Linked DNA regions of Homo sapiens. The protein of the gene in region 1 purifies or fractionates together with the protein of each later gene. This does not show direct contact. Each region holds a gene or a part of one and is shown on either strand. Other genes may lie near its edges.

What was found. Proteins that work in one complex are often made in the same cells at the same time.
Region 2: the proteins of RD3 (region 1) and LRBA purify together in Homo sapiens (affinity purification with mass spectrometry; 3 studies listed by BioGRID and IntAct, with this or other methods). This does not show direct contact.
Region 3: the proteins of RD3 (region 1) and NBEA purify together in Homo sapiens (affinity purification with mass spectrometry; 3 studies listed by BioGRID and IntAct, with this or other methods). This does not show direct contact.

Annotation. Positions count from the first base shown.
Region 1 is NC_000001.11:211,488,174-211,497,862, reverse strand, and holds the start of RD3 (protein RD3), read left to right. Parts: upstream 1-5,700; 5' UTR 5,701-6,095; intron 6,096-9,689.
Region 2 is NC_000004.12:150,850,345-150,859,303, reverse strand, and holds part of LRBA (lipopolysaccharide-responsive and beige-like anchor protein), read left to right. Parts: intron 1-6,360; coding exon 6,361-7,419; intron 7,420-8,401; coding exon 8,402-8,580; intron 8,581-8,959. UniProt on the Homo sapiens protein: Involved in coupling signal transduction and vesicle trafficking to enable polarized secretion and/or membrane deposition of immune effector molecules. Involved in phagophore growth during mitophagy by regulating ATG9A trafficking to mitochondria.
Region 3 is NC_000013.11:35,665,251-35,674,176, forward strand, and holds the end of NBEA (neurobeachin), read left to right. Parts: intron 1-2,123; coding exon 2,124-2,320; intron 2,321-3,117; coding exon 3,118-3,269; intron 3,270-5,650; coding exon 5,651-5,741; 3' UTR 5,742-7,486; downstream 7,487-8,926. UniProt on the Homo sapiens protein: Binds to type II regulatory subunits of protein kinase A and anchors/targets them to the membrane. May anchor the kinase to cytoskeletal and/or organelle-associated proteins.

The DNA.
Region 1 (9,689 bases):
AAAGCGTGTCACTGCCTCCTTGCACTTAGGAACACTAGAAGGCCCTTCAGCACTACTTTTGGGGCCATTTTCGATATCAAAATCACAAATAAAAAGCACAAAGTATGAAAAGTGGGCACTAAATAGACTGTGAAAAGGACACTTAAGATCATGAGAGCTGAAACAAGAAGGCAGAGCGTGCCTTGTTCAAGCTCAGCAGGGAACAAGTCCATCAGGTCACTAACATTTTTCTACATGTCTAGAATGACCACAAAAGTATTAGGTTGGCGCAAAAGTAATTACTTTTAATGGGAAAAACCGCAATTACTCTTACAGCAATCTAATACTATGAGTAGGCCAGGTGCAGTGGCTCACACCTGTAATCTCAGCACTTTGGGAGGCTGAGGCAGGGGATCACTTGAGCTCAGGAGTTCGAGACCAGCGTGGCCAACACAGTGAAACCCTGTCTCCACTAAAAAACACAAAAATTAGGCCGGGCATGGTGGCACACGCCTGTAATTCCAGCACTTTGGAAGGCCTAGGCGGGCGGATCACCAGGTCAGGAGATTGATACCATCCTGGCTAACACGGTGAAATCCTGTCTCTACTAAAAAACACAAAAATTAGTCTGGGTGTGGTGGCTCACGCCTGTAATCCCAGCACTTTGGAAGGCCAAGGCAGGCGGATCACAAGGTCAGGAGATTGATACCATCCTGGCTAATATGGTGAAACCCCATCTCTACTAAAAAAATACAAAAAAATTAGCTGGGTGTAGTGGCGGGTGCCTGTAGTCCCAGCTACTTGGGAGGCTGAGGCAGGAGAATGGCATGAACCTGGGAAGTGGAGCTTGCAGTGAGCCGAGATCTCGCCACTGCACTCCAGCCTGGGCGACAGAGCGAGACTTCATCTCAAAAAAAAAAAAAAAAAAAAAAGTAGCCGGGTGTGGTGGCACAAGCCTGTAATTCCAGCTACTTGGGAGGCTGAGGTGGGAGAATCGCTTGAACCTGGGAGGCAGAGGTTGCAGTGAGCTGAGAGCACAGCACTGCACTCCATCCAGCCTGGGCAACAGAACAAGACTCTGCATCAAAAAAAAAAAAAGTTCTATGAGTATTGACTTTTGGATTACAAATAAATTTTAGTGAGTAGGCAAATTTGCCAGTACTTTGGTAGGTAATGAGGATCAACTGTGTGTACAGAAGGAAGAATGAGGCTTCAGGCCGGGCACAGTGGCTCACACCTGTAATCCCAGCACTTTGGGACGCCAAGGTGGGTGGATCACCTGAGGTCAGGAGTTCGAGACCAGTTTGGCCAACATGGTGAAACCTTGGCTCTACTAAAAATACAAAAATTAGCTGGGTGTGGTGGCACACGCCTGTAATCCCAGCTACTTGGGAGGCTGAGGCAGGAGAATTGCTTGAACCCAGGAGGCAGAGGTTGCAGTGAGCCAAGATCGTGTCATTGCACTCCAGCCTGGGCAACAAGAGCAAAACTCCATCTCAAAAGAAAAAAAAAAAAAAAAAAAGAATGAGGCTTCAGAGTGGAGAGGAGGGAGCAGCAGACAGAGGATAATTCACAAAGCGGTTACCATGAAGCTAAACTTTGAGGGGTAAGTTAACTTCCCCAGGTAGGAGGGGACTCTGGGTAGAGTGGGCACCATGCACAGGGGCATGAGACAACAGGGGATGAAGTAATGTCTTTAAGGTGATGGTGAAAAAACCAGCGGCGAACATGTCAGGAAGAGCCCTGATGTCCAGGAACCTAGGAAAGGGCAGCACTTCCACACCCACCCCTTTTCACAGGGTTTTTTGTGAGCTGGGTGGTGCCAACTGCTATTACAGAGAAACCCCAACTCAGTGCTTTGACCCAACAAGCATATGATTTTTTGCACACATTAGAGTTCAACATGAATGATGGGTGAGCAGCTTTTCATGAAGTGATTGAGGGACCTAAACGCCTTCAAAACTGTGTCTCCCCCACCCCGAGGGCCTCAGAGTCCTGGCTGACGATCAGCAAAGGGGAAAGGTGGAAGGTGGACAGTTGCACAGGGGTGTCTACCTGCCACACCTTGAAGTGACTCATGTCCCTTCCATCTACACCCTATCATCACACGGCCCCACCTAGATGGGAGGAGGGATGGGGAATGAAGTCCCCAGCTGGACAGCTGCTTCCTAGGAACATGTCTACTACATGTTCATGTACTCTGGAGGAGAAATGTGACTCTTGGTGGACAGCTAGCTGTTTCTGCCACAGGCCCTCACATTAGTCCATCAGACTACAGGGCAGAACTGAAAAGCTGTAGCCGGGCGCAGCGGCTCACCCCTGTAATCCCAGCACTTTGGGAAGCTGAGGCGGGTGGATCACCTGAGGTCAGGAGTTCGAGACCAGCCTCAACATGGAGAAACCCCATCTCTACTAAAAATACAAAATTAGCCAGGCGTAGTGGTACATGCCTATACTCCCAGCTACTCGGGAGGCTGAGGCAGGAGAATTGCTTGAACCTGGGAAGTGGAGATTGTGGTGAGCCAAGATCGCACCATTGCACTCCAGCCTGGGCAACAAGAGCAAAACTCTGTCTCAAAAAAAAAAAAAAGAAGAAGAAGAAGCTGTGGTCAGTGAAGTCTATGGAAATGGAGTGTCAAGGTGCAGTCTAGACAGAGTATATAGCCAATAAATGCTTGGTGAATGAATGAATGAATGAGAAGTGCTTTATGCCTCATTCCCAGCTAGCTGGCAGGGAAGGGAGCATTCTCATTTTTCCTGCCGTCAGACACATTGCTTCCTGTACCTGATGTCTGAGTCCATTCAGGCTTCTATTACAGAATACCATAAACTGGTGACTTATAAATGACAGAAATTTATTTCTCACAGCTCTGGAGGCTGGGAAGTCCAAGATCAAGGTGCCAGTAGATTCAGTGTCTGCTGAAAGCCCACTTCCTAGTTGATGGAGGCATCTTCTCACAGTGTCCTCACGTGGTAGAAGGGCCAAAAAGCTCCCTGAGACCATTTCACAAGGGCAGTAATCTCATTCCTGAGGGCTCCCCTCTTACGACCTAATCACATCCGAAAGGTCCCACCTCCTAACCATCACCTTGGGAGATTCAAGATTGAATTTTGGGGAGGACACAACATTCAGTCCGTAGCACCTGGAGAGGAAATGTGACCACAGGAATAGAAAGAGGGATGCCCAGAGAGAAGAGGTCTAAGTAACTGCAAATCTGGTCTGTACCTATGAATATTCTGTCCATTTAATTCAACTTCTTTGGGATTAGGGCTACACAGACCTTCTGCAGGATTTGGAAAACCCAACGCATGACTGAGTGGTTAGAAATGGTTTGAAATAGCCTGGAAAGACTCCAGGGAGGAGAGAACGGAGCGCGCGCGTGCACACACACACACACACACACACACACACACGCAGAGCCGGGGCTTATCTCTAATCTCCATGCGGATTTTAATCCAGCCTTGCATGTAATCGCCTCATAACTCCACATTTCCAATTTATTAATCAAATGCCATCTATGAGGCAATGTTGCGGGCCCCACCGGTGTTTCTGCATTTGATGGTTGCTGAATATCTATGCTTCAGCAACTTCCATCCACGCCAAACAAGAGAAAAACAACCGCCACCTTTTCTCCCCAGAGCAAATTCACACTCAGCAAGGATAATCACAAATCCTCCACAGGTGAACAAATCAGAATAAATGAGGAGTCAACACACCCACCAAGGCCTGTGAGTTACGGTATCAAGGCAGCTGTCAGGGAGGGTCGTGGGTTAGGGAGTGCCTCCCTCTTCTAATCACAGGCACCATTTGAAAAATGCAGGAGAGGGGCCAGCTGCGTCTGCCAGGGAGACTGCTATAAGTCGTCTGTGTGCTTGTTCCCTGGCATCCCAGGGTCAGGAGTCCTGAAGCTCATCTGGCAGCTGCTGCGACAAAATCTTTCTGATGGCTCAAGACATTGGCCTCTATGATCTCATTTACATTCATTGTGTGTGCATTAGAAGGGGAGATATTAATACAAAAGCATGGCTATAGAAAAGGGATGAATTGTTTTTATTCAAACACAGAATGGTCAGTAGCAGACCCAAGGTTGTACTACTTGGAGATAAAAGTCTTTAACTCTGGGCCCTAATGCTGTCCCTGCTCCCCACCTGCCTGCCAGACTTCCACCTCCTCCTCATCTGATCCAGCAATCCAGCACACACAGGCTTGGCTGGGATGTGTGCAGAGAGGAGAGCCAGGCTCAGCCAGCTCCTAGCTTGGTGCCCCTGTAGAATGGTGCTTTAGAAATACGTGCTGCACAGATGAGCATGTGACTTAGTCCATGCCCTCCTCTCCTCATTGCCTCCAGCAACTTTCCTAAAGGGAAGGTAAAGTCTTGTCATCCCCCTGCTCCCTTCCCTACAGTGTGGAAATGCCTGGGAATTTCTGCCCTTGGACCTCCAAGCCACGCCCCTTGGGAAAGTGCCAGGATAGTGGTGGGGTGCTCAGAGGTGGGGACTCCCAGTTACCTGCTTTGGGTGACTCTGGCCTTAGCTGGCCCTGAGGTGGAGGCCGCCTGGGAACTGTGGGTCAGAGGAAGTCAGCTTCAGCTCCCTCAAATGTGGGGATCTTCCATCCCCAAGTGACCCACTCAATCTTTGGGGCTGTCGTGCTGTGAACTGGTCAAGAGAAGTATATGATCCAACTCCTGACTCAAGAATCTTGCCTGCTTGATGGATGAAGAGGGAAGGCGGATGGAACCAGCTGAGTGGAACCAGCCACAGAGCAAGCACGAAGTGACAAATCACCCAGGGACGAAATCATGCAGGCAGGCAGGTGGGCAACCTGAGTCCATTTCATCAGCCATTGTTTAATTTATTCTTGGTTGTACTTTCTGCTTTATTTCCAACACAATCAAAACCAGATGTGTGCAAAAGTCACGCTATCACCCAGCACAGGATTACCTAAGATCTATTATAATGCAGCTTCATGCCCATTACAGTATTCCCATGCCCCTCACAGGGCAGTGTGCATCTGTTTTAGTGCTACCTAATGTCTGTTAGGTGCAAGCTGGCCCACACATGGCTTCTAGGCAGAACAGTCTACAAGTGACAGCGTGACCAGAGAGCAGAGACAGGAAGGAGGCCCAGACATGAGTGTGGGATGCTGCAGAACAGCAACAGGATGCTTCTGCTATCCCCAAATGTTATCTCAAATACCTCAACGTCAATGCTTTCTGTTCCATGTTCCTCTTCTCCCTGGACAGCCCCTCCTTCTGAAAGTCAGAACTGTCTGCTCTTGAGCTTGCCTTGAGGGAAGGAAATAATTTAGATAAGCAGAGAGGAAGACAGGCAAGGGATGTGGTGGGGCAAAGGCGGAGATGTATCTTCACAGGTCCCTGTCCTCAGCACCCAGAATCACCCCTTCCCTGTAGGAGGGAGCTGATAGAAAGAGGGGATCTCCATCCAGGAGCCACCCACCAGGCAGCTGGAAACATTTGCCAACAGCAGGTACACCTAGGGCTCAGCAGAGGGTTGGGTGAGAATGGTCTTGCCCAGTTTGTGCCACACTGAGCACCGGCTGGAGGAGGAAGCGGACAGAATGCCATCTGGACACAAGTGCTCCCTCACTGCCTGGGCCTGGGTCGCCTCAGGCTTTTGTGTCAGATCAGCCACTCCCTCTACAGATAATGCTGCTCCAGGCAAAGAGGCTTAGGTGGGTCTCCAGGGCAACCGCAGCTCAGGAGCTGGCCCGCCTCCATGGTTCATCAGGGAAGCTGTGGCTCCAGCCTCGCGGGATACATACACGCATACACACACACACACACACACACACACACACACACACACACACACCTACACACCCCACAAACAATAGTCCAGGCTGGATCTCTCCTCCTGTCTCTTCTCTTGGTAAAACTTCTCAGAGAACCAAAGAGAGGCAAAATTTGAGGCCAGCCGGCAGCAGCAGAGAAGCTGAGGGAGACTTGAGGATGTAGACTGCCCTGCCCTGCTGTGGCTGCTCAACTTTCTTTTTTTTTCCTGAAAATATCCAGACACTCTCTTCTCCCAGACTGGGAAGCAGAACGCAGGCCCCCTGCTGTGACGCTGCACCTGAGCAGAGGCTGACCTCAGAGGTAAGATGGAGGTCTCCCCAGGAGACAGTGTCTTCCCCACCCGCACCCTGGCACAGCTGCACCTTTGGAAGTTAGGGCTGAGGCTTGAAGCTGGGTGGGGTGGCCTCAAGGGGTGTGGCAGGCTGGGGAGCCTAGAAAGCCGCCCACCTCCGGGACCCAGATGGCCACAGGAAGGCCCCTTTAGTCCTCATCAGTTCCACAGGAGTTGGAACCGATGAGGGTCCTGCAGCTTCCTCGGGGCTATAGCCTGCTCCTTGTTTTGTAAACCTGTGGGAAGCCATTGTTTTTGCCTGTTCTGGAACTGCAAGCCTCTCGGGGAGGACCCAGCTCCAGCAGGTTCCTTTCTGCCTTTATAGAGTGGACACAGGCAGGGGGAAGGAAAGCGAAACCCAAATCAGAGACTCTTGCATGGGTTTGCGAACTGTGATTCGAGCATCTACTAAGTCCAAGGCACAGAGTCAGGCTCTGGGGATGCAGCAGCACCCAGGGCACGAGGGTGATGGATGTGCCTCAGTCCCCTCGAACATGGAGCAGTCTGTGCATCCCTGATAACATGCCCAGGAGAGTGGGCCCAGGCAGATGGGTGCAGGGTGGGGCGCCAGGGAGATCGGGCCTAGAAGGAAAGTCCAGCTGCGACCAAGGGATGAGGGTCAGTCCCCTCCCACTGTGGTCAGTCAGACCTGTGTACACGCCCTCTCCTGGCTGCACCTCTGCCTCAGAATGGGAAGGACTGGCTGCCATTCACTCATTCATTCAGGAACCGCTTATCAAGTGCTACCATGTGCAGCAGATTCAACCCACATTCCTCTCGCCCTTGCAGAATTCATAGCTAGGTGGGGAAGAGATAAATACAACCCAAAGCGTGAGAAACGTGTTTGCTAGATGCCATGGTGATGGGCCCTTGTGTCAGGCCCTGGTGGCTGGGATCAGTGCTCCATGGGTGGGGGGAAGTGAGGGGCCGGCTGCAGGGAGGAGTTGTCTCTTGAGGGGTTCCCGACAAATGAGCAGATGTCTGTCAGGTGGGCAGAGGATCCACAGGTCAGGCCCGCTCATATCTGGCTTGGTGGATTATAGGTTGTTTTTCTGTGATGCCAAAGAGAAATAAGGTCAATTTGCAATCTGTAAAGTTGGACTTGGGCCTTATCAAACACAGAGCTGGGAGGCAGATTAGCCAGAGAAGCACCTACTCTCTGCCCCCACTGAGAAGTCTCTGCCCAGACTGAGCGTCTGGCGTCAGCAGAGCCAGCCTGCCCCTGCAGTGAAGCTGCCAGTGCTCTGGGACAGCCTGACTCAGGTGCTGCTCTATGCCTGGGTCCGGCGGGTCACACAGGGCAGCCCCTCACCCTGGCCTGCAGATGCCTAGCTCAGCTTCAGAGGTGGAGGACCCGGGCCGGGTTCCCTGGCCATGGCTCCCTTTGCACTGAGAAATTGGCCTTCCTGGGCAAGGTCTGCACGCCCTCACTGTTTGGCTGGGGCCGGCGCAGGGCCTCAGTTCTCACTAGAGGTGAGGGCACTCTCATCCCTCCTGCAGGGGGTCAGAGCCCTGCTTCCAGCTCCAAGGTCACACTCCCCATTGTTCCCACCATTGAGACATCCCTGGTCCCCCTCTGAGTGCCAAGTGGAACCAGAGACTCCTCTTGCCCTTGAGGCACAACGCGAGAGTTTTTCCAGCACAGCTAACGAGCCACAGCTGGTAGTGGCGCCTCCCAGGAGCCACAGAAAAGACATTATCCTCAGGGATGTTCAAAAATAGGCTGAAAGGAAGGCTCTGAGAGTGTGGGGGTGGAAGGGGTAATGAAGGAGAAAGGAAAGAGGAAAGAGAAGATCAGAGAATGGAAGATAACGGGCGTGGGTGAGTGACACCAAAAGGCAGAGACAGAACGTGCGAGGGCTTCCCCATCATCCACTCTGCTCTGTAAACCTGAGGCCTCACCACCTGGGCCTTCTCTTGAAACAGGGAGGCTCAGCTCTCCCAACACGGTGACCAGAAGCCAGGGCTGGGGAAGGCCAGGAACAAAGTTGGGGTCAAGCTTGCACCAAGCCAGGGGATCCTTTATTTTTGTGCCCCCTTTGGGAGTCTGTGAAGCCTGTGGACACGTTCCTAGAAAAATGCTTCTAAATGCATAAAAGTAAATTCACTGGGGTACAAAGGAAACAAGCTCTATTGAAATGCAGCTATCAAAAAAAAAAAAAAGAAAGAAAAAATGATTTATGATATAATAATATGTGTGCTTCCCTATCAACATGTGAAATAATAAAACCTAGTAGCAAGTCTAATAAATGCCACAATTTCATAGTAGTGATGAGCATACCAGATAATTCAAGAATAACAACTTTAAAGCATTTTGTGAAAAATCTGTGGTTTCTGCTGGAGATAAAGCCATGGGGCTACTGATATTACTGTGGTCTATGACCCTCATTCATAACTAAAGAAATACCACATTTCAGTTAAAGGTTAGTGGAAATAAAGATGACTTTTTTCCCCACCCAAGTTCATAAATCCCTGAATTTTCCCTAGGACCCAAGGGTAAGAATCTGTACTAAGCGACAATGGTAGCCACTGATCTAGGTGAATCAGCTTATTGTTAGTTTATAAAAATAAAACATTTACAAAGACATAATCTCATTTGATTTTCACAGTAACTTGAAATAGGTACCTTTATTATTCCCTTATAGATTGGGGAAACTGAGGCTTGGGGCCATGAAGGTGACTTGGACAAAGGCAGCATACACGGGAGGGGAAGGGCGTAGGAACTGAATTCAGGTTTTATCTGCTGAAGGCTGCACTGTCTCCCCAAGCCCAGCCTGCTCCACCTGAGCTGGTGATCAAGTAGAGGCGGAGTGGGGGTGCAGCCAGGCCACCCAGCATGCATCTGAGGTCAAAAGCAGTGGAGGTGGTGAGTGGGGGTGAGAGTGGGGATGGTACTGGACCCCAGGCCCCAGACTCCACGGAGGGAATATGGGGAGAGGGAACGGAAGGCATGTATGTGTCAATGGACAGCAGCAACTCTGTCCCCACCCCGGCTCCCAGACAAAAGAGGGAAACGCAGCCCAAAGATTCTTACTAAGGACCCCAAGATGGATAGGGGTCTTAACAAGCAGGGCCCAGCCCATGTTCCTAGCTGGCTTTCATTTCTTTTCTTCTTGTTTTGTGTCATCATTGCATTTGGTCATCTGTCTCCTCTCTATAGAGCCTTCAAGACCTCTTTCCAGGTGGGTTTTTTTTTTTTTTTTTGACAGAGTCTTGTTCTGTCGCCTAGGCTGGAGTGCAGTGGCACCATCTTGGCTCACTGCAGCCTCCACCTCCCGGGTTCAAGCAATTCTCATGCCTCAGCCTCCTGAGTAGCTGGGATTACAGGCATCTGCAACCACACCTGGCTAATTTTTGTATTTTTAGTAGAGATGGGGTTTCACCATATTGGCCAGGCTGGTCTCAAATTCCTGGCCTCAAGTGATCTGCCTGCCTTGGCCTCCCAAAGTGCTGGGATTATAGTCGTGAGCCACCGCTCCCGGCCTCCAGGTGAACTTTTTAGCCACCTGATTGTGTCTCATAAGAATTACAACCCCTGATCACTGCACAGGATTTGTATAGTT
Region 2 (8,959 bases), on another chromosome or scaffold:
TTAGATACTGTATTTTGTCTAGACTCATATTGCCATAAGTTAGAATGGGTTTATGACTTAAAATGAATAAAGATTAGTCATGTTAGAGTTAAAAGTATAATATGAATTGGATTTCCTCCTAAATAGTGAATTTGAGGATAAAGTCCTTAATTATCTTGGATTTTTTGAAATATCTGAAGATTTTACTTGCTGTTTACTGATGAAATATCTGAAGTATAAATTTCAGTCACTGTACATAAGAAATGAAATATCTGAAGTATACATTTCAGTCACTGTACATAAGAAAAAACTACCATTTAGATTGGGTAAAAGCATGTGGAAATAAGATTTTTTTTTAAAGAATTCTCTAATTGGTTTATTAAAATTATTTTTTAAATCATAAGATATGAACTGGCATATACAAAAATGTATATGTGTTTATGGTGGCTGTATGATAAGATTAAAAGCGACTTGTTTGAAGAAATTTCAAAAGTTACAAAATTGGCTGGACATGGTGGCTCATGCCTCCCAGCACTTTGGGAGGCTGAGGCAGGTGGATCACTTGAGGCCAGAGTTTGAGACCAGCCTGGTCAACGTGGTGAAACCCTGTCTCTACTAAAAATACAAAAATTAGCCAGGAGTGGTGGTGCATGCCTGTGGTCCCAGCTACTGGGGACTAAGGCATGAAAATCACTTGAATACGGGATGCTGAAGCTGCAGTGAGCTGAGATTGTGCCACTGCACTTCAGTCTGGGTGATGAAAGGAGATATCTCACAAAAATTACAAAAATAAAAAAGTTACAAAATGTCCGCATTTCATGGATTATCAGCACTTTGCACCTTATTTAATTGCTAAATAATTCTTTAAAAATACCTGATTTCTGTGTGAGTGTTTGTGTGTGTGTTTTTATCAAATTTAAATGGCACTTAAAAAAAAAAAAGAAAAAGAGAGAGAGACAGACTGTTGCTGTGCTTCCCAGGCTAGAGTGCGGTGGTTCTTTACAGGTGCCATTATATATAACACACTACAGCTTCATACTCCTTGGCTCAAGTGATCCTCTCCCTTCAGCCTCTCCAGTAGCTGGGACTGCAGGCATGTACCTTTGTTCCTGGCTAAAAGTATTCTTAGCTTTAACATTTTGAAACCAAATAGCATTTATTACTTTAAAAAATTTAAAATAATAATAAGTTTTCATTACAGGAAATCTTGAACCCAGCAGAAATGCATACACACAGAAAACAAAAATTATCCATTATCCAAACACCTATGTATAACTTATTAACATTTTAGTGCGAGACCTTTTAGTCTTCTCTTCTATACATGAATCTATACATAACATATAATTATTTGCTAACAAAATGTGATCGTATTTTTACTATTTTAGAGTATTATTTAATGATATGCTTCTTACATGAATTTTAATGCCTGCATATTATATGACATTATGGAGAAGTAAAGAGCATAAGATTCAGCTTTGATATAACATTTGAATGTTATCAGACCACTTAAAATTCTAGGAAGGAGTGACCGTGTAAATGATTCAAGTTTTCTTTTTATATTCTGGCATTCTCCAAAATTGTATTTAGAAAAATTGATGGAAGAGAGATTTAAAAAATCTATTGATTTATATTATAATCATACTTTATCTGTTCCTTATCATTGACCAATGATGAGCCTGGTTCAATACTGTAACCCTTATTTTGTAGGATAAATTCCTGTAAGTGGAATTTCCAGAGGAAGGAGTCTGTACATGTTTTAAAAAGTTTTTAGTAGATATTGCTAAATTGCCCTCTAAAAATTTGTACCAGTTTATACGCTAGATTTGCATGAAAGCATCTGTTTAGACTGTTTTTAAGAAATTAAAATTGATCAAAATGACTGTTTTAAAAATGAAAAGATTAGAAGTTATTTGCTGCAATATTCTTTTGTCAGTGTTCTTCCTATCTTTATAAATGGGGATTGTACTACCAACCTTTAGAATTGCTCTTAATTATGTCAGTAATGCTTGATTTTACCATTATATCTGTTACCTATACCATTGTTATACATCAGAGTCTTTATAAAAGATCTCATTAATGTGGTGGCAATCATTTTGACTTATGCTCATTGATAATACATATGGGAAGATCCACCTGTTTTTAAAGATATATCTTATTTATCAAAGGTTGGTAACTTAATCAGAAGTTAACATCATATTTAGCTGGTATTTTCATATGAAAACAGACACTGAAAAAGATGCCTTTGCTTAAAAACAAAGTCAGTTGCTAAACATTGCCTAACAGTTTAAAATGTCTAAATTTTACAGGTTATACGGTTTTAATGTATAGATTAAAAAGATAATATTAACATCTGGATGTATTGTGTTTATCTTTTATCTACTAATTAGTAAATTTGAGTGCCAATTAAGTTGAAAATAATGGCAAAAGAAATGTTATAGTCATTAGCTCACAAGTATCTTTAACTAGTAGTTTATAGAAGTGCTTTCCAAACATTACAAACAGCTATAGATTAGCTATCAAATGATTGTGAAGATTAATGACTAGTCTTTTAGCTGGGTAATTTAGAACAATATCTGGCAATTAATTGGAAATTATCAGTTTTAAAGTCACAAATATCTTAAGGAAAACAGCATCCAAAAAGATAATACTGATAGTTGTTCAATTGCAATTTAGCTTTTAGACCATTGGATGAATTAAATTAAGGGCAAATTTAAAAACCAAATGACTTTAGAATTTTAAAAGCATTTCAGATTCTGAAGGTAAATGCTTTTCTATCTGTGGTTTTATACTCTGACTATTAATCAAGTATGAAGCGAGAATAAATACCTTTTCAGGATTTGAGATCTCAAAACATTTATATACATCCTTTCTTAAGAAGGCACTGCAGGATATTGCACAAAAGGAGAGAATAATACAAAGAGGAAGAAATGAAATATAAGAAACAAGAGACAACATAGAAGAGAGATGAAGGGGATCTCCAGGACTGTAGAAAGGGAGATCCCAATAGCAGCTATGTAGTAGGCAGATGACAGTCCATCTGGACTGGAGCAGTTTCACTCAGGAGAGGTGGACCTGTATTCTTATTAGGAGTACTTAGCTTGCTTGCCTTCATCATGTGCTGATTAAATTCCTGTTTTCCTGTCTAATGTGAATCACCTGAAGATTCTCACTTCACTCCACAAAGACATGCTGTGCTTCGACCTACTTCTTAGGGTAGAGGTTCACCATGGTGAGCTTAGAATTGAAAAATATAAAGTATTTCATGCCAATACACTCTACCTGGCACACACTGCCTCTGATAGGTTCTCCAGTTCTCTTGACCTCTATATTTCCTGTATTTCCTAATGACTTGCCTATAAGACTTCCCAGAAATGGCTTTACATATTCTCTCAAATAAGCTGAAGCCCTGCTGCAACTCACAGATTCTGTGTATCTTGTCTTTTCTTGGGAGCTCAGGTGTGGCAGTATTGCTCTTTAAAATACAATTGGCTAGGTTTGTGTTAGACTTAGTTTTTTAAACTAAACATAATGGGTATGTTTAGTATATAGATAGTAAAACTATCTTTTAAAATTATCTCCCAAAGCTCTGACCTCCAGGTAAAACTATTTATAAACAGTGAACGATAGAAATACCAGGATAGTGATTTTTTTCTGATTGTAGTGGAGAAATAGGGAGTACAGTTTGGGCAGGGCACATAGGGGAATTGTGAGGTACTGGTAACGTTTTACTTCTTGACATGGGTGGTAGGCATGTGAGATTAAAAAAAATTGTTTCTTAACCTGTACATATAAATTACATATACTCATGTTTATTGATCCATTGTATAATACAAATTCTAAAAACCTTTAATATAAATAAAATCAAAGCAAATGATTATTGAAAACTAAAGTCATTCTATAACACAGGCTATTGTAGAAATAAATGGCCTATTTTCAAAATGACTGTGAGGTTGGTAATATGTAACTTGCTTTCTTTTGACAATGATAATTGTTTGTTGGTGGAGAAATGCTCTCTCTAAAGTCAGTTTTCCAAAAAGTAGGCTAACCAGTCTTATTTTTTTGGAGACAGAGTCTCACTCTGTCACCCAGGGTGGAGTGCAGTGGTGCTATTTTGGCTCACTGCAACCTCTGCCTCCTGGGTTGGGTTCAAGCAATTTTCCTGCCTCAGCTTCCTGAGTAGCTGGGATTACAGGTGTGTGCCACCATGCCCAGCTAATGTTTGTGTTTTTAGTAGAGACAATGTTTCACCATGTTGGCCAGGCTGATCTCAAACTCCTGACCTCAGGTGATCTGCCCACCTTGGACTCCTAAAGTGCTGGGATTACAGGCGTGAGCCACCGTGCCCAGCCACTGATCTTTTAAAAAGGGAAATCAGATTGTCTTCCCTACACTCTTAATTCTCAAATGGCTCTCTCAGAATAAAATACAGTCTTTAATACAGTCTATAATGTTCTACAATCATAATCTAGCTCGTGGCCACATCTTTGACCTCATTTTCTTTAGTTCTCAGTTTATTGCTTTATTGTTATTCATCATACATACCAAGCTTATTTCAGCTCCAAGGCCTTTGCATTTGTTCTTCTCTGCCTGAAACTCTTTTCTTTTTACATGGCTTGCTCTCTCTTTTATTCTTGCCTTTGTTCAAATAGAACAGAGAGGCCTACTGCAGTTACACTAGTAAATACACCTTCTCGCCTAGACTTTCAGAACAGTTCTTCACTCTGTACTTCCCCCTCCCTTCAAAGCTCTTATTACTATTTGACATTATCTTACATATTCGTGTGTTTATTTTCTGACACCTTCTTTAGAATATAAGCTCCATGAAGTCAGGAACAATGTGTTCATCACACAATGCCTGGCCTGCTACCGATGTTCAGTAAATTTTTGTTGAATGAATATGAGGAATTGGTCAATTAAAATACAGAACCCATGTCAAATAAAATATTGGCATTGTGAATGTAAAAGAAATTGATATTTTGTTAATGTGATTATGTCATTTTACTGTTTAGTGAGGAATACATGCATTTATTGTTGAAATATTATAAAAAGATTTCTAAGTTTTAGAATTAAGAACATAGTTACAATGTGGAAATAGTTACAATTAGGAAAAATACAAATATTCACAGGAAAATATTCATTCCCTGAACATTTTTATTTTTAGGTATATCACATGGCATGAATGTTCTGTATATGTCATGAGTAAAGGCGAGTTAATGTCGATAGAAGGAAATTTTTGCATTGAGAGTCATTTTTACTTTTGTTTGCTTTTCATCTGTGTGTATACTCTTGTGATTCAATAAGGCCTATTGATTTTTGTGGATAAAAAAATCAGCTTTTCTTCCTTGATTGTCCTATCATCCTCTTATACTATGGCTCAATAAAGATTTATTGAATGAATGTTCAGTTTACTCTATATAATAATGTAGATTACAGAAACAAACACTTTTGGGATTAATAAACTATAATTAGGCTAATACTTTCTGCATGTGTTATAGGTTTTTCTGGCATTTTTGTTGCAAGGGGTGATGGGGGTTACCATTGAAACACCAATGGAAATCATATGATGGTGGCTATAAGATAATCCTTAGATTTTAAAAATTCTAAATCTTGTGACATTAACAAGTACAGCACTCTCTTTAAAAAAAAATTTACTTTTTCAGTTTTTTCCCATTTGGGTAAAAGGCAAAGCATGATATAGGAATGTTCACGGTGCCTAATATATTGTAGTCACTCAGATATAAATGGAATGAATGGATGTATGGATGGATCAACTGAAACATTCAGACTATTTTCGACCAGTTCAAACTTTGGAAATTATGGTTAACCTTTGGGGGAAGGGCTGGATCTTTTTTCTCCCATTGCTAAAAGAATTTGTATTCATTGGCTTAGTGAGATAATGGTTTTGTAGCTTAATAGATATCTGTAGAGCTACTGTAATGGTGAGCATAATTAATTGATATTTTTAATCTCTCCTGCGGACAAGTCCTGGGGAAATTGGTATTCATAGCGGTTGAAACAAGTGTTATCCAGTGCATAAAGCACTTCCCAATGGTACATACTTAAATTCTGGTACAAGTTATGGTGGCCAGTAGAATAGTGTATCCTTTTCCTATACATGTTTAATAATAGGCTAAATAATTATGTTCTTCTTGTGGTTTCATGCTGTGTTACTTGTTAACATTAAAATTGGCTGTAGTTTTTAATGAATATTTAGATTTCTGTGATTGACTTACATTTATCATTCTACTAAAATAAAATATAGGAAAATTAAGTTTTATTGTATTATATAAACTATGTATTTGAAAATTATTTAGTTTTATATTTTGTATTCTGTCTTCATTTCTCATGCATATTTTAACTGATTGTACATTTTTCACCTAGGTCACTTTTGAAATACACAAAGAAAACCTTGCCAATATATTTAGGGAACAGCAAGGAAAAGTTGATGAAGAAATAGGGCTGTGTTCTTCAACTTCAGTTCAAGCAGCCTCTGGCATTAGAAGGGATATTAATGTTTCAGTAGGATCCCAGCAACCAGATACGAAGGATTCTCCTGTCTGTCCTCATTTCACCACAAATGGTAATGAAAATTCAAGTATAGAGAAGACAAGTTCACTAGAATCTGCATCTAATATTGAACTGCAAACTACTAATACATCTTATGAAGAAATGAAAGCTGAGCAAGAAAATCAGGAGTTACCAGATGAAGGCACTTTGGAAGAAACACTGACAAATGAGACAAGGAATGCAGATGATTTAGAAGTATCTTCTGACATAATAGAAGCTGTGGCTATTTCCTCTAATTCTTTTATAACAACTGGCAAAGATTCAATGACTGTCAGTGAAGTAACTGCTTCTATAAGTTCTCCTTCAGAAGAGGATGCCTCAGAGATGCCAGAATTCTTGGATAAATCTATAGTAGAGGAAGAGGAAGATGATGATTATGTGGAACTGAAAGTAGAAGGCAGTCCTACTGAGGAAGCTAATCTACCCACAGAGCTCCAAGATAACAGTTTGTCTCCAGCTGCATCTGAAGCCGGTGAAAAACTGGACATGTTTGGTAATGATGACAAATTAATATTTCAAGAAGGAAAACCTGTTACTGAAAAGCAAACTGATACTGAAACTCAAGATTCTAAAGATTCTGGAATTCAGACTATGACAGCATCAGGGTCTTCAGCTATGTCACCAGAAACTACTGTTTCCCAAATAGCTGTAGAATCAGACCTTGGTCAGATGCTGGAGGAAGGGAAGAAAGCAACTAACCTCACTAGAGAAACCAAATTAATTAATGATTGTCATGGTAGTGTCTCTGAGGCTTCTTCTGAGCAAAAGATTGCGAAGTTGGATGTTTCCAATGTTGCTACAGATACTGAGAGGCTGGAGTTGAAGGCCAGTCCCAACGTGGAAGCACCTCAACCTCATCGACATGTGCTTGAGGTGATTTTATATATTGTCTTATTCAAGTACTTTTGCACTGAGTTAAAAAAGAGCAAGTGTATATACTTAAATTTTATTTTATTTTGAATTTGGTTCACATGCTATTCACAACTAAATAAATGCAATGAATGTGAAGATTGTATTTCAGATCATTAGCACAGTGTTTGGCAGTTAATGTGAGTTCATTAAATGACAGTTTTTATTACTATTTTTACCATAGTATCACCAGAAGTTACCACTTTGAAGGATTGGTATAATTTTAGTTTATAAAACAAATATTGGAAACACTTGCATTTTACCTTTTATTTGACTAACCCAATCCTAGTACATTAGTTTTCCAACAAACTCTAGGGCTACCTACCTGCCAGTGTATAATTTTAGTTACTAAGCATGTGATTTAAAATTGTATTATGAAGTCTATAAGAGAGAGGAGGCTTTGTGAGATCTAGAGGCACAGCCTTCTCCTCTGTCCATATCTCAGAGTGACCCATGAGACAGTGCTTGGTAGCATGTTGTCATTTTCCACTTTATTCAATTCTTATCCTCTGTCCCACCCTCCTTTTTTTTGTTTTTGTTGGTTGGTTCTTCATTATGTTATCTCTGTTTTTATTCTTCATTCTAGCCACTTCATAATCCAAATGCCACTTAGATTCTAAATACTGCCTTTCTTTTAGGCTAAGGCTAAAAACTAAGAACTGTTACTTGATTCTTTTATAAAATGCTACATAGTGGTAATACTTAACATGGTTCCAAGTTAATTACTTTTAAATTGTGGTAGTTTTGCACTTTTGATAGCTTTGCTTACATGTACTAAAATGTTAATGTTATTACTCATTGATAATTTTTCTTTCTCTAATTTGGTTCTTATAGTGTCTTAAAAACGTGTTAGATGAATTGCATAGAAGCTACTAAATTATTTACTTTGCTAAAGCCTCCTGCTGAAGTTGAACCTATTTTATTACTTTTTAAATTTCTGTATTAGATATCAAGGCAACATGAGCAGCCAGGGCAAGGAATAGCACCAGATGCAGTTAATGGACAAAGGAGGGATTCCAGATCTACTGTGTTTCGTATTCCTGAGTTCAACTGGTCTCAGATGCATCAACGTTTGCTCACTGATCTATTATTTTCAATAGAAACAGATATACAGATGTGGAGAAGGTTTGTCTATATGTTTATTATGGAAGATGTGTATAAACCTAGTCTTTATTTTCAAAGAAATCCATAGAAACAGTTTGTAATTAATTTCAGACATTTGGTTAAAAAGTAGAATAGAAATTATTCTATGGTAGGGTTTTACTGAATTCACTTTTATTCTCCATTATAAGAATGGAATCCTTATCTGGATTACAAAAATGTGAAAAGCAGAGGTTTCTCTTTTAAAAAAATTTGTAGTAGATTTCCTGTAGCAATTTTATGGCACGGAATTCACCAGAAGGTAGGTTTATCAAGTTGGTTTATTACTAGAAGTATTAAAAAATAATTGGTATAGGCCGGGCGCAGTTGCTCAAGCCTGTAATCCCAGCACTTTGGGAGGCCG
Region 3 (8,926 bases), on another chromosome or scaffold:
TTGTCAGTTTATTTCTTCCAGGAAGCTTCCCATAGACAAATGGTATCCCAAAGTTATTTGTAGATGTTTAGTTTTATGATTAATATTTACTGGCACTAATATAAAATATGTATAAAATTTTATGTAGTATTTTGTGGTCAACAGTGTTCTAAGCAGAACACTGATAAATTACAGTGTATTCTTATGATGCAGCCATTGTAAAGGACATGTAAAAGACAAGGGGAAAGTATCCCTGATGTAGTGGGGGAGGTGGGGGGTCATGTCACTCATCAGACACGGCCTAGGATCCCCTCCCTCTTCAAGTCCCTTTCTTTATAAGGCCAGGGGCTGTGTAGAGGTTGGTGGAAAGGAAACAAAGATTACTTGGTTCTTTGGAGGTTTTGTTTTGTTTTTGAGGCATACCTTCACTCTTGTCACGCAGGCTGGGGTGCAATGGTGCAATCCAGGCTCCCTGCAACTTCCGCCTCCTGGGTTCAGGTGATTCTCCTGCCTCACCCTCCCTAGTAGCTGGGATTACAGGCGCCCGCAACCAAGCCTGGCTAATTTTTTGTATTTTCAGTAGAGATGGGGTTTCACCATGTTGGCCAGGCTGGTCTTTAACTCCTGACCTCAGGTGATCCACCCACCTCAGCCTCCCAAATTGCTGGGATTACAGGCGTGAGCCACCACACCCAGCCTCTTTGGAGTTTTTGTAGAAGATCTTTCATTTCAGGAAGTCAGGAAACTTAGGTCCTAGTTCTGGCTCAAATAGCAGTTCTCTGTGGGAAGACTCCCAGGCAGAAAGGAGCCTGATGCTTGGAGAAACTGAAAGGAGCCCTGGGTGCTGCTGGAGTATCACCGTGGTGCCACAACCTGGAGGAATGAGAAGGCTGAAGGGATGGGAGGGGCCTGGGGCACAAGCATTTGCAATTTTTTTTTAAATGAGTATAGTAGGAAACTATTGAAGTTTTTTAATCGAGGTGATGAGATAGATAGGTTTGGTTGTTAGAGCTCATTTCAGCCTTTCTACGGAGAATGGATAGAGTCTGAAGGCTGGCACCATGTTTTTAAAATTTTGGTATCTAAGAATAAATAACCCAGAAATGGACACATAGGATATTTTCAGTCTTTTAATTTTAAAAAGTAATAATATGTGTAATATCATTTTACCCTGTGAAGTTAAAAAAAAAAAAAAAAAGGAAAATAAGTGACACATAGTAGGCGCCAAGAAAGAGACATTTCCTGCAGGGGCTGTGTGATATTAGAGATGATTGCTGGTGTTTTCCTAATTTTCTATAGGGCAAGTCTATTACTTTAGTAATCAGGACAAAATTTAATCATGTCACTTGCTTTGTAAAATATGTGTCTATTCAGCTCAATTAAAAATAAACACGTAATTCATACATTGTTTTGTGGAAATCTTTTTGGGACAAGGGAATAGATATATAACACCAAACTATAGTGACCAATTTTTATGAATTGATCAGTGAATTTTTTACTTTATCAACACTATTTTATAAGGGCAAAAAAACCCAGAAACCATCAGAGCCAAATGTCACTCCTTACCCTCCTTTCACACTCTTGCCTCACTATTCATTTATTTGAAAGACAAAATATCTTTCTGTAGGCTGAAATACTTAAGTTTTCTCAATTTTGCTTTTACATTTTATGCGTATGGATGACAGAAAAAGGTAAAATGTACTTGACGGCAGTGTATTGATGTGGTACAACGCGTAAAATTTTGATGCTACTTGAGAAAATGAGCAGCTGTTCTGATAATTCTATTAAACTTTCAAGAAAAGTTTCTAAAAGCGTATTAAGAGAAAATGTCTGGCACATAAAGTCTTTTATTGTCACGTAATCTGTGAGCTGTACCATTTTACTATGAATATTACCTGACAAAGGAAAAGACCAAGTATCTACCTGGTGAAGAAGCGTGCGGCGTAGGAGTGTGATATGTAGCAGGTACTCTGGCTTTGCTCTGTTTAAATGTAGCATCAGCGCTTGGCCTGGCCAGCCTACCTCTTTCCTGTCCTCTTCCGTCACATCTGAGCGCACACCCAGCAAGGTTTTCAGGTTGGTGGGAGCTAGTATGTCGTTTGTCGTCCCCAACTGACCCTGGCATTGATGTCCCCACTTTGCAGAGGGCCCTTGCCTTGTCCACACCATCACTGGAGATTTGCTGAGAGCCCTTGAAGGACCAGAAAACTGCTTATTCCCACGCTTGATATCTGTCTCCAGCGAAGGCCACTGTATCATATACTATGAACGAGGGCGATTCAGTAATTTCAGCATTAATGGGAAACTTTTGGCTCAAATGGAGATCAATGATTCAACACGGGTAAATCTGCATAGTTCGTGCTAAGTAGGACTGAAGCCAAGAGATTAAAGATTGATTGTTTTACATTAAATAATTCATAATAGAATGTCTGTGCTATCCAGATAAATGTGTTCTAGATTAAAAGTATATAACTTCTTGCGGACTGGTACTTTAAAGAAACCCAAAGTTCATTTAATTGCAAGTAATTAACTCACTGCATTAGACTTCAGAAATGATAGCTGTTGTTTGATTAAAGCTTAGAACCTCGGGAGGGTTTTTAAAGCTCCTTTTATAATTGTTTCAGTGCTGCACCCTCACAACATTAAAAGTGAGTTTATTTTCAAAGATTTCTATCTCTAGAACCCTAAACAAAAATTACATATACCCATTTGCCCTTCATTCATGAATAAATTATAATTGCTGGGTTGTCATTATTAAACACTGTTTTGAAATATGTTTCTTCCATTTGTTCTTTAATTCTCTATAATATTAATATTCAAGATTTAACTAAACATGTTACTTAATGCTCAAATTCTTCCTGGATTAAATTGATAATATTCTCTTGGGAATTTAATCTTGGTTTTAATAAGATCTTTTGTATATGTAAGAACTTCGATGAATTCCACAATGGAAATTCTGTGGATTGAACTTGATTTTGTTGGACAAATGACTGACAGTAGGCAATAATGATAAGGGAACTGTACTGAGTACTTTTCAGTAGTGACAGTTGGCTATTTAGGAAAAATTGAGAGAAATGGTTGTTGTGTATTTTATTTTATTTTGTTTTTTTTTGTTTGTTTGTTTTACCTTTTCTGAAGGCCATTCTCCTGAGCAGTGACGGCCAGAACCTGGTCACCGGAGGGGACAATGGGGTAGTAGAGGTCTGGCAGGCCTGTGACTTCAAGCAACTGTACATTTACCCTGGATGTGATGCTGGCATTAGAGCAATGGACTTGTCCCATGACCAGAGGTGAGCTGCGTCAAGGACAAGTATCATCACTGAGAACTGTCATTGAAGGCTCTCTTCATTCTACCAAGGGTGAATTGTGCTGTGAGTGCAATTCCAGCATCCAAATGAAAGAAAGACTGGCAAAGAAAAGGGGAAAATGAGGGGAAGAGTAAGGATTCTAGTGAGAGGGAAACAGAGGAAGAGAATAAGAAGGAAAAAAAGAAAAGGATCTGATGAAGAACAGGTGCCTGCAGACATGTTTTAAGGGCCCAAGACATAGAACTTACTCCCACCAAGTTCCCTGTTCTCAGGTTCCTGCCTAGTCTCAGACAGGCCACCCTGGCTTATATGATGTGAGGGAAACACGTATTTTTCAGCAGAGGTGGGATTCAGTGTGAGACCTACTTCTTGCTAACCAGTTTCCAGCAAAGTGCATAGTGTGGGCCGTAGCTGGCCCCCCTTTCAACAGCATGCGGCACTCACGCATTACCCAGAACAATTTTTTTACCCCCATGTTCTTATTTACCTGTTTCTCATTTATGTTATTTTGTTTTATTGTATGTATTTCCTTAAAACACGTTAATCCTTTAATCCAGCTCTTTCTTGGAAAGAGTTGATATGGATGTTAATCAATTAATAATGATTTTCCATTGTTCCTCAATTTGCAATAGGATTTTATTATTTCCTGAAATTTACCTTTGGGTTTCTTACAAAGTGAAAATAATATTAGAAATATAAAGTCTAAAGTTCCTAAGCCTTTAAAATAAACTACAACCCTGTAATCTGAATATGGCATGTGATTTCTAATTTTTGCTATTTAACAGAAATAAGAAAAGCTTGTTAATCAACGTTTTTCCCAACTACATGTAATATTCCTCATAACAGTATTGGTTTTAAAATATTTTAAATATTAAGACATAATAAAGTTAACAAAGCATCTTCACAATATAATAAAATGGCACTGAAGTCATCAGGAAAAACGCTGTAAGCTAATTTAGTCTGGGAAAGGATGTTTGGTCTGCAGCCCAGACTGTTTTTAAAGAAGGTTTAAGGTTATTATTGGAGTATCCCAAAGTGCTGCAGCCCATACTTAGGAATAAATGGGAATGGTTTGTTGTGTTACTATTTGTATATATGTGTGTTTCCAGAGTGTTTGAAATGATTTGTGTTTGTAAGCAGTTTCAATATTTCCCTGATATTCTTACTCGTTCGTGTATTCATTTTGCTGCCATCATCATAGGTTGAGTGCAGTGCAAAGTACTAAGGATCCACAACAAGAAACTGACCCCAGAGAGCTCAGATCCTCATAATCATTGCATATGAGGGCACCAGGAACAGACTAACAGAAGAAGGAAGGGATGAACTCTTCTTGAGGGCTGGGAAGGGCAGGAAAGACCTTAGAAGAGGCTCATCCATTCACCAGGCATGAACAGACAGGGTGGATGGAAGAGCATATTCAAAGTTGCAGTAGTATTAGGGGGTCTCAATGGAGGGGGGAAAGATACTAAGTTTCTATTTCTATTTTAACCTCATCCTTGGTTTTGATTATTTTGTTGTTTTATAATGAATAGTGCATGCATATCAATTATAAACTGATAAACATATATTGGGGATATTACTCAAAAGGTATTTATTGGATGAGGTGTCTAATCAAAAGTGAAGCAACACTTTATGTAGACAGAAATCCTGAAACCTGAGTTCAGTCAGTGGCAGTGGGACTGGGGAGGAATATCCCTGAAAAAGAAGCCTCAGAGCTGAACAGCTGATCAGTTAGGAGGGAGAGGGAGAGGAGACAAGGTGACTTAACCAGCAAAAGACCAGCAAGGTCAGAAGGTACCAGTGATTCATGGTGGACATGTTGAATCTGAGGGTTTTGTGACACAGCCTGGCAGTGACCTCCACTTGGCAATGGGAAATCAGCATCTGGGGCTTCAGAATGAGACGTCGTTGCCTTTACGTCCAGGGAGACTGTGGACCGAGAGGACAAGAGGTGGAGTGATTCAAGGGGGCAAAGAAAAGAAAGGTCACAGAGATAGGAAGAGATGCCAGATATCCTCAGAGAAGCCAATAGATGCCCAAAACAAGGCAGCGGACAGGCACGTGTGTGATTGCTGAGAGAAATGGGGCACCCAGCGGAGGCTGGAAATGTGGTTCCGTGGGCCCCTCACGCTCTGCAGCAGGGCTGGCTGTCCAGGTGTGTGCGGGCTAACTGTGCTCCTCTCAGCAGAACCAAGAAGAAATTTCAGTCCTACTTCCATGAATACAAAATTAAGACTTGGCAAACCTTGAGATCGTGATATTGTCTAGTGTAAAATGCCAAACTTTGAGATACTGTCTAGTGTAAAATAGCAACCACAGAAATGATTTTATATCACTCTTAACTGCTGTTTCTGCTTTTCCAGGACTCTGATCACTGGCATGGCTTCTGGTAGCATTGTAGCTTTTAATATAGATTTTAATCGGTGGCATTATGAGCATCAGAACAGATACTGAAGATAAAGGAAGAACCAAAAGCCAAGTTAAAGCTGAGAGCACAAGTGCTGCATGGAAAGGCAATATCTCTGGTGGAAAAAACTCGTCTACATCGACCTCCGTTTGTACATTCCATCACACCCAGCAATAGCTGTACATTGTAGTCAGCAACCATTTTACTTTGTGTGTTTTTTCACGACTGAACACCAGCTGCTATCAAGCAAGCTTATATCATGTAAATTATATGAATTAGGAGATGTTTTGGTAATTATTTCATATATTGTTGTTTATTGAGAAAAGGTTGTAGGATGTGTCACAAGAGACTTTTGACAATTCTGAGGAACCTTGTGTCCAGTTGTTACAAAGTTTAAGCTTTGAACCTAACCTGCATCCCATTTCCAGCCTCTTTTCAAGCTGAGAAAAAAAAAAAAAAACACGTTTGATACTTTGTACATCAGATGCATCTTATTTAAAAGGGATACTTTTGTAAAAGTAAAACCTTGTATAAAGAACAAAATGTTTCTTAATTTTATTGTGGAGTTACAACTTGCATGTTCCTTACTCCTGTTGGCTTGATGGAACAGGTGCATTCACACTATGAAACAGAAAGATCTGTCCAAGGACACAGCTTGTATGAAAGGGTTGAATTTGGGCTCCATCAGTAATTTTTGACATTTTCACCAAAATATAGTTTGCACTTTTTAATCTAAAGTCATCCCTTCTGAGTGAAATTTGCTCATAAAGCATTTGGATACTAAGCCATTATTTGCCATTTTGGGTACTTTATACAAAGAAAATTCAGCCCTACCCTGCATAATTTGAAGACACAGCAGAAAGGGGGCTTAGGGATGAGGTCCTGGTTTTTCTTGTATAAATAGGAGTCATGGGCGTTAGTTCTGTAGTAATAACTTCCCAGCACCTGGACATCTCTTCCAGAGTTATCCCACTGGCTTGGTGTGTATACATTAGGGGAGGATAATCTGATGCTAACTTTTTTTTTCTCTTTGGTTCTTGAATAGCTTAGTTTCTTTAATAACAAGTCAAACTTTATTACAACAATAACTGAAGTTATTCTTTTAGGTTCTCGTGAAATTCTCACTGAAAGCCACATTCTTAGCCTAAGGCATTTCATCTTTTATGATATAAAATGATGGCTATCAAATGATTTTCCATACATTGTACTGATCAAGTTATACACCCAGGGGTATATACACTTTCTTCATGTTTCTTCTTTGTATATTTGGTGACTGTATCGTCATAGATGTACATATTGTGTCGGTAGGGCTATGAGGCATGTTACAGGAATGTAATTTTCTCAGAATTTACACTCACTCGCAGTCATTTATTTAAAAAGATAAAACAAGATAATGGGTTCTTTGTATTGGCACTTTGCACCAGAAACATATCATTATTTATTGATGTGATTACTTATTTGTTATCCACCTTGTACTAGTAAGTTTTAGCACTGAATTCCTTCTTCACTGTTGTTTGTATTTATGAAATTCTGAAATTATGGGGAATCAGCGTAATGATTAAGTTATTCATCACCAGGCTGTAAGCAATATCTTGAGTTTGTAGCTTAGAATTGGGAGGATACTTAACATCTGGAAGACAAGTTCATTTCATCTTGAGATCATGGTGAAATATTTTGGATATATAAATTCCTTAAGCTATTGTAACCATGTTTTATTGCAAAGATGTAAAATATGCCAGATGTGTGTGAGTTGGAAATCAAAAAAAGAAAAATAAAATATGCAAAGAATTCACCGACTGTTTCAGATTTCATTGGACATGTCACTAGCATGCTTTCATTGTGTTGTCATACAGGTTTCCGAAGTCATCATCATCTGATGTAGAGCCTACAGCATCTAAAAACATGAAATCGAGTCCTAATGAGGTTCTGCAATTTGCTGAAACCTGAGCTGCTCTGCCGAGCCATCTGGCAGGGATCTGGGGCAACAGCGACCATGGGGAAACGGCCCTCATTGTCTATTCTGCATAATCCACTTTGGGGATTGTCTTTATTTTATTTAAAAGGAACTAAGTAGTGAAGGTTATAATAACTCCTTTTTTGAGTGTTATCACATAATGCCTTTTTCATTTGAAACCACACCTTCTAGAACCCATCAGTGACCAGGCATGGCACAGGCAGGGACCGAGGACCTGGAGAGGCTGAGCAGCTGCTAGCAAGGGCAGCCACGAGTGGGCTGAGGGGGATTCGGTCACACAGATTGGCATGGGTGGTAGCAAGGGCAGCCACGAGTGGGCTGAGGGGGATTCGGTCACACAGATTGGCATGGGTGGTTGGGGCAGCGGCCCAGACAGGCCCAGAGAATGACAGAACTGCAGGCCGTGCTTCCATCCGCATTCCCGAGACTAAAGGGACAGACCCAACAGTAGCCTAAGGAAGGTTTGCGCTCTTACTTTCCATCCTATCCCCAAACCAGAAATCTGTCAGTCATCTGCCCTGCTGGCTCCCTCACCCAGCCCTCCTGCCAGGCACTCCAGCCAACTGACTGATCACTACCTAAAGTGTCTTTTGAAACTGCCCCTGCCCTTTCCAGCACTGTCATCTGGACTGTCCGAAAACCTCCTGACCTCTGACCTGTCCCCTCCCATCCATGCTCCGCCCTGCTGCGAAGGCACCCATCCAGTCATCTCCCTCCCTGCCGCCCCGCGCCCCCCTAGTGCCCCCCAGCGCCCCCCAGAACCCCCCAGCACTTTGAAAAACCAATACCAATGGCTTAAAATGGTATTCTTAAACTCTGGTGGGTTGAAAATCACCTGGGGAGCTTATTTTTAAAAGCAGGATCTAGAGTCCCACCGCTCCCCCCTCCCACCCCAAGCACTTCTTGGGCACATTTTCAACAACACTGATTGGAGGGATAAATTCTAAGCTCAGTGAAGCGAAGTCCTTCAGGAACCACCCCCAGCAGCCAGCACCCCTAGTAAACCAGCCTTTTTCCAAGTTCCTGAGAACTCTCTTGCACCTGAGTCCCTAAGGCTCCTCCTGCCAGGCGGCCCCTCTCTGCCTGCACCACTCGCCTACTGCCTTGTCGCAGATTGACCTAAACCAATTTGGTCATGCACAGTCTTTTTTGGCAGGTAAAGGTAGCCCCCAAAACACCACATCTTCACTATTTCATGATGAAAACAACTTTTAGAAACAGTTTCTGCTATGTGTGGGGATACCTTTTTTTTTTTTT